Regions from separate parts of the Homo sapiens genome. Here region 2 is linked to region 1. A link means that fine-mapping ties the variant in region 1 to the expression of a gene that starts in the linked region. Tissue or cell type: lung. Region 1 holds a variant in brackets; the other region holds the start of a gene. All regions are shown on one strand. Distances are between the middles of the regions.

Region 1 (8,215 bases):
ATGAAATCCTGAGTTCATACAGATGAAAATAAATTAATAATTTGAAGGCATGATGAGAAACAGGATATTTACATAGTTTCAGAATATAGCTCCACAAAATATGTATTAATTATAAAGCAGAAAATATAGCCTTGCCATGTAAAATCCTGGAAGACAACACCTTCATCCATGATCATCAGTGTGGACAAACCAACAACACATACCACCCGAAGATGGATGAGAAAAAAACAGTGCAACTTCTGTGACACTTCTGCCAAAGATGCATAATCTTAACCACATCATGTAAGCAGCATAAAAGTCCAAACTGAGAAATACCCTACTTCCTACTCAAAGGCATCAAGATCATGACATACAAGGGAGGGGGACACCGAGGGATTCTTCGAGACTGAAAAAGGCTGAAGAGACCAACTGCAATGCTTACCTCTGACCCTTTGATATAAAAGATATCATAGATACAAGTGGCAAAGTTGTATGGGGTCTGAGGACTATAAGGTAGTCATCTATCCATATTAATTCCTGATTTTGACAGCTGTGTTTTGCCTTGTATTTTCCTTATTAGAACACTAAAGTATTCGGTGTTCATGGGTAATGGACTGGCTACTGATACTCAAGTAGTTCTGAAAAAAAATTAATTTTGTGCTTCAATTCCAACTCTTTTGTAAAGTTGCAATTGTTAGAAAAGTAAGAAAAGAAATACTGTTTGATACCTGTCAAAGTTTTCTAACTTCTCTTAACTTTGGATTCTCTTTTTGTATAGGGTAAAGTAAGACACAAATAGGATAATACATAGGAAACAATTTGCAAACTGCAAAGCATTATTGAACATAAGCTTTTGGTTTAAATAATAATAATATACTGCATTAAGAAAGCCATTCACCCATTATTTTTCTATCTATCCAACAAACAATATGTAAACACATAATTGGCATCAGATATTGTGCTGAAATGTAATTTCAAGCAAAACATACAAGAGTGTGAAGTACAGTAAGGAAGAGAAAATAAGTAAGTCAGCTCTCCTGGCCAAGTATGATAAGGGCTTTGATACAGTAAACTGCAGATTATGAGGGGAGGACTAAGGCAGATCACATAAATTAGAACGTGGTGCCAGGAGAAGAGCTTATGAAATAGTGATGCTTAACCTGAGTTTTGTAGGACAAAATATAATTTGGAGAAGGAGATACCATTTTAGATAATGCCAGCAGAAGATATGATGCCTCAGAGTGATGAAAAACGGTATCCTTGGGGGATCCCTTCGTAGTTCAGCATGGCTGTACAATGCCTATCACAGAGTGTAGATGCCTATGGTTCAAGCAGGAGGAGAGTTTACATGAGACAGCTGTGTAGAAATTTGGCATGAAGGGTACCATGTCCTGGGCTGAAACGCAGGTGATACATTAAAAAGAATGTGTATGAACTCATTTCTTTTAGCAGGACAATGGCCTTGCAGTGGTATGCAAGATAACTCTGGTGAGTTTCATGAGGCTGGAGGTGGAAACACCAGTAGGTGCAATGGAGCAACCCCTGCTGGCTTGGGATATGGTCCCGTTTGCCGAGACAGGGATTTCAAAAGGAGGATAAGATTAGATAATGAAGAGCTCAGTCCTGGGAATCCTGATGTTGAATTTTCTGTGGAACTCTTGAAATGAAGATTTGAAGTGTTAAACCACTTTATGGAACATGCTGGATCCCAAAGGCTGGAAGCAGAAAGCCGCTCTACTCTCTCACCCCTCCCCGTTAATTCACCCAGCAGAACCATTCTCCCGGGCTACCAGGAAAAATTTCAGGAAGGCTTTCTAGCTTTTCCAGTTTCTTTTGGTCACAAGTGCAGCCTCATTTCAGCTTTTAAAGAGCTCTCCCTAGTATACAATCAGAATCCCAAGTTCTGGTCCAATGTAAACTGCTCCCTGCCCCAGTTCTGTCCTGCTTCAGGAAGTCTGTAGAGGAGGAAGGCGGGATGGCCCCCTTCTTTCTTCACAGTTTTCTCTTTCCTGGTCTTCTGATTTCCACTTTTGACTGCCCCAGGATGAGGCCCAGATGGGGAACAGCTTGAGGGGCATGGCACCATCTTATGCAGTCAGGAGTTGTGACCTTGCTCAGCAAGCACTAGGGATGTTTCCGCAGCTCACCCTCTCTTTCTTTGGCTGCCCTTCACTGGCTGTGCTACCTTTAGCTGGGATCCTCCCACTGCAGTTAGTTTGGCACAAGCTTCTATTACTGATTGCTTCCGACTCACCTTTTAGCCTCTGGGCAGTCCATCCTTCTGTGGGGGTCTCTTTGTTCCACCTATCGTGAGTGGAATCCCTTTTAAGCAAACTTCAAGCCAGCCTCCATCAGAAGGGTCATACTTGGTTCCCCCAAAACTCAAACATTTCCTCTCACTGTGAAGTGTAGCTGGTCCCCACATAGCCACTTTGCTTTGCTTTTCAAGCATTCAGGTGGCAGCTCTGGTCTTAGCTGCTTGCCTTTAGACTTTTAACTGTGGGTCAAATATCGGTCTCCATGTCTCTCAGTCTAGGGACATGTGCCAAGCCCTCTGAAGACACTCTTAGAGCCCCTTCTCATTTGCTTGCTGGGAGGAAACCCCCCCTCCCCCTTTCACACGAGTAAAGGCAGAAACACCATAACAGTCTCACAATTTTATTGCTTTCTTGTACCTTCCAGTTCAATTTCTTATCTACAAAGTGGGTGATGGGCTGGCGGAACAATTTTTCATCTCTAGCATTGCTATTAGGATATGCATGTTTTTACCACCATTGTTCTTACATTATGCTTGGAGTTTAGAGCCCCTGCCAAAACCCAGAAACCACCTGCTGCAAATACAGTGACCTGCTGCAAATACACTGGGGTAACACACAAAGTTGGGGGTTAAGAATTTAAAAGAAAAATCTTTGATTCTGAGAAATCACTATGACCTATCATTACCAGCTAAAGAGTTGTCTTTTGTCCAGGAGGCCTAGAAAAGCTGTTTAAGCTCTTTTCCTTACACTGTCTTCATCTCTGGTTAGCTACTATCAGGCAACAACTGGTTGTTAACCAGATTAAGGTGACATCTAACCAAATTGCCTATACAGTTAGCAAGAGCACACCAGAAAGATATAGGAAGAGCATTACCCAGATACACTCACTCACACATGTTTTGCATAGTAGGGATCTACACTATTTTATTTAGCTTCACTTTATCTAAAAACTAAAGACTTTTTGATCAATTTCACCAATCATGCAAGAACTAAATAAAGGCTGTGTCTGTCTCTGCTGGTACATAAAGCATAAAGAAGCCTTGGATCCCCTGCAGCAGTTGCCAGCTTCCCGCCTCTCTCCTGTGCATGGGCAGATGTGTCATGTTGGTGACACTCACACATTGACTCAGCAAACTGTGAACTCAGCTCCCTCGGTGAGGATTCTGTGACTTGCTTTTCATACCATGGAAAAAGAGGATAAGGCAATTTTTCCAATTTTTTATTTTGGTTTTATTTTGAAATCGTTTTATACTTTTAGGAAAATTAGAAAACAGTGTAAAGAACCTCCAAATCATCTTTAGCCGGATCCACCATTTTTTTAAACATTTGCCACAATTTGTTTTTGCTTCTTCAGAACTCCTTGAGGGTAGGTTGGATATATCATTCTCCTTGATCCTTTAATACATCAATGTGTATTTCATAAGAGTGAGACATTCCCATTATTTTATGTGACCACAGTACAGTTATCAAAATCAGAAGGTTTACCCTTGGTATGATACTTTAACATCCGCATTCCAAATGTGTCAGATATCTCAACAATGTTCTTTGCAGAACCTTTTTATTTTGTTTGGTTTGCCCTTCAGTCAAGAGTGCAGTCCTAAATTTGTCCAGTGGGAGCCCCTTCAGGCTGCCTGCTGAGTCCTTTTGACATGCCCCAGTTTTCTGTTTGTTTGTTTTGAGTACTTTCTTGCTTTGTGGTTACAGTATTCTAAATACCCTGGCTCTTTAAACTTCTTTGGGAGTACTTATCCTTAAGCATGCTTACTGTCCTTTTGACTTTTCTTTGAGAGTCTCAAAATAGCCTATG[G/A]ATGTTCCCTGATTAACATTCCACACATCTGGATTGCCAATACCATAAACAAGGTGACAACACAGACCACCGTCGTCAAGTTATTGCAATGTACAACTTAGGTGAACATGCATAGTGTTTCATCATTTAATTGAGAGAATGAACAAATACATCAAAGAAAGCAAAACTATCATCAGAAATATATTGATTCAATAGTTAGCCCATAATATCACATGAACCAGCAAAAGTTCACAATTAGAGTTTTGTGTAATACCTAAGATTATTTATTCTCTTTAAAATCTTGCCACGATTTACTGTGTTAAAGATAAAATAATATAAAAATCAGACTACTAGTTATCAGTTAGTGAACACACTAGTCTGGAAAACATCATGTAATTGGAATCAAAGAGGAACAGGATGATCAGTCAATCCACAAGGCAGAAAAATACATTTCTTAACTGAAAATATCAATTAAATTCCTGATTGAATGTGGCACCTAGAATGTAGATTAGATATCATAATAGCACTTACATTAGAAGACAACTTTTCTTAGGTTAATGTGACTACTAATATGGAGGCCTAATCTTGCTAGGTCATGTTAGAACCCTTATTCTCTGTCCCTGCTGTTCTTACTGTGAACAGGAGTACTGTGTGGTTCAAGGGGAAGGAACCACTGATTGTTTATCTTGAAGGCCCGTTGCAGTAGGTTTGTACCTGGTGTACACTCACTGTATAACTGAGGAATTAATGAATATTTTTGCTACCGCAAAGCCCTGAGGGGTGAAAAGGTGCTATGGTCTGCATGTTTGTGTCCCCCCACCAAATTCCTATGTTGAAATCCTAACTCCCAAGATGATGGTATTAGGAGTATGAGGACTTTGGGAGGTGATTGGGTCATGAGGGTGGATCTCTCATGGCTGAGATTAGTGCTCTTATAAGAAAGACCCCCCAGCTAGGCATGGTGGCTCACACCTGTAATCCTAGTACTTTGGGAGGCTGAGGCTGGTGGATCACCTGAGATCAGGAATTCAAGACCAGCCTGGTCAACAAAGTGAAACCCCATCTCTACTAAAAATACAAAAATTAGCTGGGCGTGGTGGCACGTGCCTGTAATCCCAGATACTCAGGACACTGAGGCAGGAGAATCACTTGAACCTGGGAGGCAGAGGTTGCAGTGAGCCAAGATCACGCCACTGTACTCCAACCTAGGCAAGAGCAAGACTCTCTCTCAAAAATAATAATAATAATAATAATAGAGATCCCAAAGAACTCCCTTGCTCCTTACACTATGTGAGGGAATGCCTAGAAAGTGCCCCCTATGAACCAGAAAGTGGGCCCTCCTCACCAGAAACTAAACCTCCTGGCACCATGATCTTGGACTTCCCAGCTTCCAGAACTGTGATAAATAAATTCCTTTAGATTACTAGCTACCCAGTCTATGGTATTTTGTTATATTAGCCTGAATGGACAAAGAAAAAGGTAGGTAACTTTTGAGGAAATGTGGGGCTTGGTATTTAATGTGACTGTTTGTTTCAGCTCTTCATTATTTCACCGTTAGTTATGTCTCTGGAATGAGAGCTTGGCTCTTGACAGGCAGTGACATATGACACATCACACAGCAAGGAGGAAATCTAAAGGGAGACCGCACTTCAAGGTCTCTGGAGTGATGGCCCCCGATAACTAGCAATCAAGCGTCAGGCATCAAGTGTGAGTTCCTGGTATCAAAATGCATGGAATGCAGACAGAATTCAGAGGGCAATATACAGCTTCTAAAACATTTATCAGGAAATAAACTCATCCTGAACTCAGAAGCAAGAAAAATGTCAACAGATTAAACATAAAGAAACAAACCAAGAAAGAAAATACTAAAGAGAAGACAAAAATGAAATACAATAGAAATAAAGTAAATTTAATTACCAAACTGGAAAAAAAAGTTTCTTTTAGAAGACTAATGATATAGGAAAAAATATTCTACATACTGATTTTTAAATTTTATGCAAATAAGCAGGAAACAGATTTTATAGGGTAAAATTATCAAAATGACTCAAAAATTTAAAGATTCAAAATATAGTCTAAAATTTCTGTACAATGATACCCCCAATGAATTTGAAAACCTAAATTACATGGTTAAATTTTTCAAAAACATTATAAAATATAAAACAGCATAATGAGAAATAATGTGGCATGGTCAATAATAATTTATAATTTTATAATGCTATTCGAAATATTTTATTTTTATTTTTATTTTATTTGTGTGTGTGTGTGTGTGTGTGTGTGTGTGTGTGTGTGTGTGTGAGAGAGAGAGAGATTTTTATTTATTTATTTATTTATTTTAGATGGAGTTTCGCTTTTGTTGCCCAGGCTGGAGTGCAATGGCACCGTCTCGGCTCATGCAATCTCTGCCCCCTGGGTTCAAGTGATTCTCCTGCCTCAGCCTCCCGAGTACCTGGGATTACAGCCACCCACCACCACGCCCAGCTAATTTTTGTATTTTTAGTAGAGACAGGGTTTCATTATTTTGGCCAGGCTGGTCTCGAACTCCTGACCTCTGGTCATCCCCCAGCCTGGGCCTTCCAAAGTGCTGGGACTACAGGCGTGAGCCACTGTGCCCCGCCAATCTTTTCCTTTTAAAAGCCTGCACACATCAACATGCATGCATCTCTCTCTCTCTCTCACATACACGCTCACGTGTGTGCATGACAGTTACAGGCATATGTGTTTTTACAAATGAATTCTGCCAAAGTTTTAAGAAATTCCTATATTATACAAGTGGCTACAGAATATGGCAAAGAAGATAAAATGGTCCAGAGAATAGAAAATGAGGGAAAAGACTTAGAATGCCAACATCAAAAATAAACAAGGGTGGTAAAAAGTAAAGGAAATCCTAGTTGATGTTGATATATTTGTATAGGTGAAACAATTTTACATAAAATATTAGCTACCAAAAATATATTTGATACCCAAAAGCAAATGTATACTCTAGCAAAAATGATATTATAATCAAATAGGGTGTTTGCTGGAAATGAAAGATGGTTTCACATTGTACGTATATCAATAATGAATTGAAACAGAAAAAAATTACCATCTTGATATTGTCAAAAAGGAATTTGATAATCTTCACTTCATGATTAAAGTGGGAAACAAAGTGTTTTTAGGGTGTCAAATATAGAACTCCCTCTAAACTTGTTATAGGATATATAAACATTTCAAAACATAAAGCAAACATCACATTGAATGAAAACACTGGATAAATATTAAATCCTCCCCCTAAGCCTGAAGGAAAGTAAACACTCCTCTTACAGGTGAATAATGTGCAACACATTATAAGAAAATGAAGGAAGAGACTGACGCCCTTAAAGGAAAGAGATTAAACTCCCGTCATATATGCAGATGGTATCATGTAAATATTTACCTTGAAAACCCAGAAGCATTAATGAACAAACCTCTGGAACTATTATCAAACTTGAGCAAGATTGCCAGAGGCATGAACAACATTCGAAACAAGCTGTGGTTCACTAAAGCAGCCATAATCAATTAGAAAATAAAATAGGAACTCAGAGGACATTTGGAGTAGCTTCAGAAACTTGAAAATGTCTAGGAATGAATCTACCGAACCCTGAAGAAATCCTTTATGAAGATAACCCTAAAATTAGACTAAAGGACAAAAAATAAAACCTGAACAGATGAAGGGGTTTTCCACTTCGTAGGAGGAAGTGTGGTAAAGATGTGAATTCTTCCGTAATTAAGGCCTCAGTGCAATGCAAATCCTAACAAATTTTTCAAAGGCAATGGACAAACTGTTTCTAAAATTTTACTTCCAGCAATATGGAGGCCTGGATATTCTAAAATTCAATCCCACTGTCTAACTGGAAATGTGGGATACATTGAAGTAAATCTTTAAATACATACCTACGGCTCCTAAGAAAGTGGACAAAATTGCCAGAGGTGAAAAAGAAAAAAAAAGTAACGAAGTTAGGATATCAAGTTTGTCCCTGATTCCAAAGCTACAGACATCCTTTGGGCATTTTTAACAGGTAGGGATGTAGACACGTGTAGTCACTCCAGAGAACAATCTGACACCTATAATGAAATTGAGTTGCGGTACTCCATGAACCAGGAACCTCACTCCTGGGGAGATGTGAGAGAGGAACCCTGCTCCTTTTGTGATCATAAATGTTGAGGCAACTTGATG
Region 2 (8,162 bases), 200 kb before region 1:
CCCTCGATCTGGATGGACACCATCTGATCAGCTGCCAGTGCAGCTAGGATAAAAGCAGGCAGAGGAACATGGAAGAACCAGGCTGGCTGAGTCTTCCAGCCTACATCTTTCTCTCATGCTGGATGCTTCCTGCCCTTGAACATCAGACTCCAAGTTCTTCCGCTTTTGGACTCTTGGACCTTTGACCACAGACTAAAGGCTGCACTGTCAGCTTTCCTACTTTTGATATTTTGGGACTCTGACTGGCTTCCTTGCTCCTTAGCTTGCAGATGGCCTATTGTGGGACCTCACCTTGTGATTGTGTGAGTTAATTCTCCTTAATAAACTCCCCTTTATATATACATCTATCTTATTAGTTCTGCCCCTCAAGAAAGCCCTGACTAATACAACATATAAAGTAACAGATTTTCTGATACAATTCGTTCTTAGGTGTTGTAAATGAATTCTCAGCTCTGGAGAATATTCATTTTAAATAACTTTAACCTTCCTCCTGCTGCAAACAATGCTGCCCCAAACCCGTATGCTTAGAGAAGAGCTGAACCAGGAGAGAAATAGGTCAGGTGTAGTTATTGCAATGCTTCACCCCCAGAGGCACGTGAAGGGAACTCCACAGGTAGACCTCAAGCCTCCGCTTCAGTTCATTAAAACAAAAGTAGTTTCAAGTCTCACATGGCCTTAAAGTTCTGTGAGCCCATGACTCCCTTGAGTTCCATTTCTCATTTCTGCTTGCGCCTCAGCTGGGGCCTGGTCATGTTCATGTGTTACCTCTCAACAGGCATGGGGCTCTGAGACTGGCTCTCACTGCAGATCTGTCTAAAGCTACTTCTCAGCTACCAAGATACATGAAATGGCCACACTTTTTGCTGTGGTGTTCCTACACTTTCCTGCTATATCCTGCTTCCACAGTAAATTTTTACACTCTAGTTTTTAACCCTTCTCTAAAATAAAGTAAAAATGTTTTACAAAGTAACAGATATTATCATAAACTGGAGATAACAACTGTTAGATTAAGTTTCGACCTTGAAGCGTATAATTTTTTCACCTTAGATGATGAGTATTTTCCCAGGTGACTAACAGTTCCTTGCGAGCATTAGCTATTGGTCACCCAGCATCCCACCTGAAGGCTTCCTGTGATTCACTAGGAGCACATGGGATGCTAATGTTGCACATTTCAGAAGGTCCTGCTCCTGCCCTGGAATTCATCCACTTCCTGCATTGCTGTCTGGCTTGAAAGTGAACGTGCTATGGTGATAAATCTGGCTCAGAATGAAAGACAGATATGTGGTAGAAATGCAGGACAGGCGAAGAAGGAATGGAGTGTGACGAAGGCCGATGAACCTCGCCAGCAGATCAGCCCAATATGGGAGACAACAATTTGGGAAAATCTTACGCATCAGGAACAACCATTAAACCATGAATTATGATCCTTATCAATAAACCCTTAGGATACCATGAGGGCATTCACTCTTTTTTTTTTTTTTTTTTTTTGAGTTGGGGTTTTGCTCTTGTCACCCAGGCTGGAGTGCAATGGCGCGATCTCAGCTCACCGCAAGCTCCGCCTCCCGGGTTCAAGCAATTCTCCTGCCTCAACCTCCCAAGTAGCTGGGATTACAGGCTCCCACCACCACACCCAGCAAAATTTTGTATTTTTAGTAGAGACAGGGTTTCACTATGTTGGCCAGACTGGTCTTAAACTCCTGACCTCAGGTGATCCGCCTGCTTTGGCCTCCCAATGTTCTGGGATTACAAGCGTGAGCCATCACGCCCGGCCTTCTTCTATATTTTGTTCATCCTTCCAAGATATAGCTCAAGATGCATTTTTTTCATAAAACACCCTTCACTAGTTCAGCACAGAATGCAGTATAATTTCTGAACTCCTTAACACATCGCACCATTTCTCCAGTAAAGTTAGCATTTCATAATATTCATGCTTCCTTTCCATTTTATAGACTGTCACACTCAAAGCTTAGAAAGCAGTCAGATCTTTAGTAAGTAGTTGCTAATTACTTTCAGAAATGCATCAGGAATGTTTAAATTCATTAATTTTAGATTTCATCTCTTATACTAGCATGCTAAAAGAAATATCTCACAGGCTCCAATTGACATCACCAATTTTCTGAAATGTCTACAATTTTCCGAAATTCTACAATCAAATAATTCAACTAAAACAGAACAAAAGGCAGGAAAGGGCAGACTCATATTGTGTTTGGTGACCAACTGCTCCCTGAATCTCTCACGTCCATGTCACTGTCCCTTTGTGCTTCCACCCATGCTCCATGGCTGCCCTCCACCAGGTGTGTTCAATGTGTCTAATGAGCATCCAGGTTCCTTGTAGGAAAGATGCAGAGTTTTTCCTCTGCAGAGGCACAGCAAGGAAAATAATGACATTCTGCTAGTGCAGTAAAACACGAGAGGCAATACAAAAACCAGTCAGAGTATTGCCCTGTGTCTATTTCTCCAAGAAAATAACCCCAAGAGTTAACAGATTAAAGCAGAAGACTATTCTCAAAATTCTTAAATACGCTGCATGCCTCTAATTCTTATTAGTTAAAGAGCTAATCTGCAAACTTACGAGATGACCAGTGAATCCTTTTGGGAATTGAAATTGTTCTGCAACATGAAAGCATGACATTCTTGGCAATGCTTAAGAGTAAGGCATTTTTATTTCCATTAATCATAGTTTTAATTCCTGTATACATTCTCTACCAAAAATAAGAGAAAGGTAAATATTTTCACCTTCTCAATCATCATTATTTTTTTAGTCTCCTTTAGTGCAAAGCTCAAGATTCATTCAACACATGTGTTCCCTTAATATGCTGCTTCAATTTAACATTGTGATGTCCTTTGGCAGCAAAACCTTAAGCTTAAAAGAAAACCATTTTCTGCAAATGTCATCTGTCACTTTAAGATCATGATATATATGTACAGAAGTTTTCAGAAGTGCTGCAGGGGACAAAAATGTATATCCAGCAAGCCATTTTTGGATAAATATGTCTTCCTCTTCATTATTACCATCCAGAATTGGTTTAGATGGAAGTATTCTCTAGCTCAGAAAATTCTGCCAAAATTTCAGACGCTAAAGAAACCCTTGATAAGCCCAAAAGAGAACCTGGTGACAAACTAAATTTCACCATATGAACATCAGTGGAGAGCATTTGGTACAGAGTCCCTGGAGTCCCTAAGCACCGCAAGGTGAATGATACAAGGACAAAAGTTTACAGTCAAGGATAACCCTAAAGATCACACTTACAAAAAGCATTGAATAGAGGCTTAAGCAGTAAAACTTGAGACTAAAATACTAGCTAAATGACCTCAGCCATATATTAATAAACTTAGTTTTTATGTACTTTATTAACATGTGCCAATGAGCAAAAATATGCTTTTGTAATTTCTTTCCATGTGTTTCTGGTGTTTTTTTTTTTTTCTGGTTGCTGTGTCTATGAATCATTTTTTTTAAAAAGCTGAAGTTTTAAAGATCTCTGTGCTATTAGCATTTGGATCACACTGGAATTATTTCACAATCTAAAATTAAAAGGAAATATATCCAGCCTGTAAAATATTCTTCTAAGTCACCAGTCTATGTCACTCATCTGAATGTGGTATACCAGGAGAACTGCCTTAATTTTGGCATCTGCACAAAATAATACTTCAACAAGACAAATAACCACATGAGCAAGATATCAAGCTTACTTACAGCACTTGATAAAATGATAGTGAGACATCTTTCCATCTCAGACAGGAATCTTGCTACGGGTTCCAGCATTCTCTTCTGTCACAACTGTCGTTCCCAGGAAATGCATTACTTAAAGCCCTTACTCAGGTAACAGTTTACCTCAGGATGCACTATTGCATGGAGGCTCTGTTCCATGATCCTGCAAAAAGCTTCAAACTCATTCTCATTCGGCAGCTGGAGTTAAGATAAGCCTCTCCCCGGTGGGTCTTGAGGCACCACTGGTGCACGTGCTATTGTAGCACCCTTGATTGACACAGCCCCGAGTACCACAATCCCGGGAATAGTCAGCTCTAATTGGTGTTCACATGCAGCCACATTCTGCTGCACGGAGGTGTGCTGCAGTGCGGCTCTCCCGGTCCTGCCTGTTAATGGCTTTTCAATAGCTTTCAAATGGCAGCAAACTAAGCTGATGAGTGGGCTGGAGAGAAGCCACGGATAGAAGGATCCTAAATCTTCTTCGTGCACACTGTCCATCAGCCACATATGACCAGATTCTTAGCTGGTAGTAAAGCGGATTATTTTTAGTTGCCACCAGTTGCTGTGTGTGAATAGGAAATTGATAGCAGGAGCTTAAAATAGCCACCTCTTAGAATCAGAGATCTTTGATCTGTCCTTAGTAATGAAAAACTTGCATTATATTTCAAAACACATCTTTCTGCTTTTCTGAGCAGAATGTAAAACTTAAATTATCCACAAAAAGCTTTTGGTTTGCATAGCTTTAAAATTTAGGATTCTCCTACCTCTGCAGACTGCAATGAATTTAACTGTACAACCCAACTGGATGAAGTAAATCTGACTGAATTGGAATCAGAAAGAAATATATGGTCTGCTAGGGTTTATTGTTATAAAAGTGAATATCATACTCATAATGAAATAGCCATGGTAGCAAACCAAAAGGTTATATTTTAAGTTGTTTACAAATTCAAAGTGATACATTTTTTTTGCAAATTGATACATTTTTATGATGATCTTCTCCAAAGACAAGTTGACATAGTCTAGAATTTATGTTTCAGGTTTGAGGTTATAGGAAAGGTAAACATGAACAATATGTTAAGTGCACCCATCCTTCTGTGGCAGTAACATAATTTTGTATTCCTTACTGAACAAAACTCAAAGAGCAGTGCTTTTATTAAACTAGAAGATTATGAAATTCAAATCTATACAACAAGGGGTCATGACTATTACATTTTCACTGAATAATATTCTAACACATTTTAGTAGCGTGATGTAAAATAATAAGTTGAAGATTTCGCACAGAACAGCCTGATGTCAAATCCAGCTTCTACCACTTACCAGAGTATCAATGTAAACACATTATTTAACCTGCTAAAGCCTCAGTTTCCTCATCTATGCATGTGAAATATAATTCCTAATCTTTATTCTGAAGGTTAGAAATAATGCACATAAAATTTCTGGTTTCTGTTGTTGGTGTTCATTGAAAAGTTGTCATTAACATTAACAAGGAAAAAAACTTATGTATGTACCAAATGATGATTATGGACGCTTTAACTTGGCTTTTCCAAAAATTAGAATGAGGATTTGCAGCCTTCATCAGGAATGCTGATTCCTCATTTATTCGTTGATTCCACAATTAATTATTGAGAGTCACTGTCACAAAAGTCACCATTTTGGGTGCTTTTCAGGAATAAAATATGTCTAAAACAGAGCCTTTATATACCAGGAATCTATAATGTATTTTTAAAGGGTTTCTTGGATGTTTTGTAATGTTTCAATAAAACTGTAAGACACAACTATATCTGTTTCCAACACGGGAAGTAAAGCTCTCTCCTCTTTAAATCAATACAAATCTTTACATGTGCATAAAATAACTGTGAATTTATGTGAATGTTATCTAATGTATCTTCGGGTAAGGTTGTATCCATGTAGATGTCCCTACCCCCTTCTCTTAATACAATGCCGGATAAATAGTATGTTGCCTATATACCTTCCTTAAATGTCTGAATGTCTTAATTTTCTGCAAATTGCATGCCTCTGCATGTATACAAACTCAGCAAACATCTTAAGACAATTGAGTTTAATGATACCATTCACTCTTTAAACTGAAAAAAAGCATAACACTCAGAGGGGCATGTTGTGCACTTGACAAAGAAAATATGTTATTAAAAATATAATTGATTTGAGCCCTACTTTTTTCAATAACTTAAGGCATTTCTTATAAGAACTTTAACCAAGGTACCCCGTGAGAATTAACATCTCATCTCCAGGGGCTCATTATCAAATGTGTTTATTTTTCATCGACTCATGTATTCCATAAACATTTGGCAACTCTTTGTGCTATAAGAGAAACTTGACTCCCTGACCTCAAAGTGCTTATCGTCAGATGAAATAGAGACAATCAAGATAGCACAGTGTTGTGTGCTAGAAACTGTAAGACTACAAATGTAGACCTCTAAAACAACAAGAGCCAACATCTAATCCACTTTGAGGAGTTGAAGGAGGATACACTGAGAAATGTATTCACAGATTTCTTAAACTACTTAGAATGTGCTTTCTATGTATAAACTGTATCTACATATAATTTCCCCAGATTAAGAAGCCCTTTTATCTTTTTGTCTTTGAAACCACATACTCATGCTCTAAACATTGGTAGAACTATGTTTAAACCTATTTACATATTTCATCACTACAAAACAAAAATTAATTTCTAATGCAGGCATTAATACTGAGGAAAATAATTTTGGTTCCATTAACTTTACTTCCTTCATAAAATTTTTTAAAAATGGTAACTTGAAGTTGATTAAAATTTCCTCCTCTATATCCATCCCTGAGAAACTCAACTCACTGTTGGGTGGTCAGAACAATAATTTCAGGACTCCTTCAATCATATATATATATAATATATAATATATATATTATATACAATATATATTTTTATATATATTATATATAGCTATATATAATATATATAATATACATATATACATAAAATATACATATATACATGTATAATATACATATATATATATACACACACATATATATTTTTCTTTTCTTTTATTTTCTCTTTTGAGATGGAGTTTCTCTCTGTCACCCAGGCTGCAGTGCAATGGCGCGATCTTGGCTCACTGCAACCCTCTGCCTCCCGGTTTCAAGCAATTCTCCTGTTTCAGCCTCCCAAGTAGCTGGAATTACAGGCACCCACTACCATGCCCAGCTAATTTTTGTAGTTTTAGTAGACATGAGATTTCACCATGTTAGTCAGGCTGGTCAGGCTTGACCTCAGGTGAGCCACCTGCCTTGGCTTCCCAAAGTGCTGGGATTACAGGCATGAGCCACCATGCCCGGCTAAATCTTATATTTTAAATATGGTATCAGAGTTGATGACAGTAGCAAGAAATGACCAAGGCTAAATTAAATATATGGTTAGCAATTTATCTATTTTGCAGAATATGGTCATTAAGTACAAAATTAAATCCATGCGTTCGAAAGAGGGTATTGTTTTGCATTTCCAGAAAATTTTCAAACGCATAAAGCACAATTATTTTATTATTTTTCAGTATTATTACAATGAACTATTGTTCTTTCCAAATACGAATGCATAATATTTCAAACTCATTTTTGAATAATCAAGAAACCCCTTTTTCTCTTTTATACACCATACAGCTGCTCATTATTCACACTATTTCTGATATGAACACATGATTTTTTTTCTCTTAAATGTTAGCATTATTATACACCAGATTTTTTCAAATAAGGCTAAATTATTTCCCAGCCAAAAACAAAAAAAGAAACTGCAATGATTCTAATGAGAGATAAGCATTCAAAAGTTAGAAATTGCTTAGTAAATATCTTTTAAAATGGGATACATGAGACACAGCTCCAAAAAGGCCCCAGGTGAGATACTACTTAATGTTTTCATTTAAAACCTATTTGGACAATGTAAAACATGTAGTTTCATAATGCCAGTCTGCTGACAGATAATTCCTAATCTAATAGTGCCTGCATTGACATGCTTTATTAAATGAAGAAATTAAAACTAAAGTTTGCAAACATCACCAATTTGGGAAAGGTACGTATTAACAGTAGGTCATGACAAAAATTCTAAATGAAGATATAAATCACACACAACAGTTTTTTGTTATGCAAATTTAAGCTCTGTGATGGGGCATCATTGCCTCTGCCCTGTGAATAGGTTGGGGCTTATAAATATTAGCCTTTGATGAAGTAAATTACACACATTTAGAGACCTTGAGCCACAGGTGTCTCACACACAATGGCTGACAGCTAAATTTATAATTTCCTCTATCACAAATATTGACTGCTTCTGGGTGAATGGAGTCAAGACCTCTCCTGGGAACATAACTCCGGTCTAATAACTTAGGGTCCTTTGAGGCTGAAGCCTACAGAGGAGAAAATATCTGAGTTGTCAAAAAATAAGGCATAAATACACTCAGCTCTTGCTATAGAA

Evidence for each region. PIP is the estimated chance that this variant, and not a neighbour inherited with it, causes the effect.
Region 2: it holds the start of MYO16, and the variant in region 1 is fine-mapped to the expression of MYO16 in lung (TOPMed, PIP above 0.99).

The regions. Positions count from the first base shown.
Region 1 is chr13:108,422,700-108,430,914 of GRCh38, reverse strand. No RefSeq gene overlaps it. Among named protein-coding and RNA genes, the nearest start is that of TNFSF13B, 160 kb to the right of the region's middle. The variant G/A (reference allele first, on the strand shown) is at 4,045.
Region 2 is chr13:108,625,405-108,633,566 of GRCh38, reverse strand. It overlaps MYO16 (myosin XVI), which reads right to left and starts at 3,956. Exons shown (of 35, transcript NM_001198950.3): 1 at 3,695-3,956. The coding sequence starts at 3,722.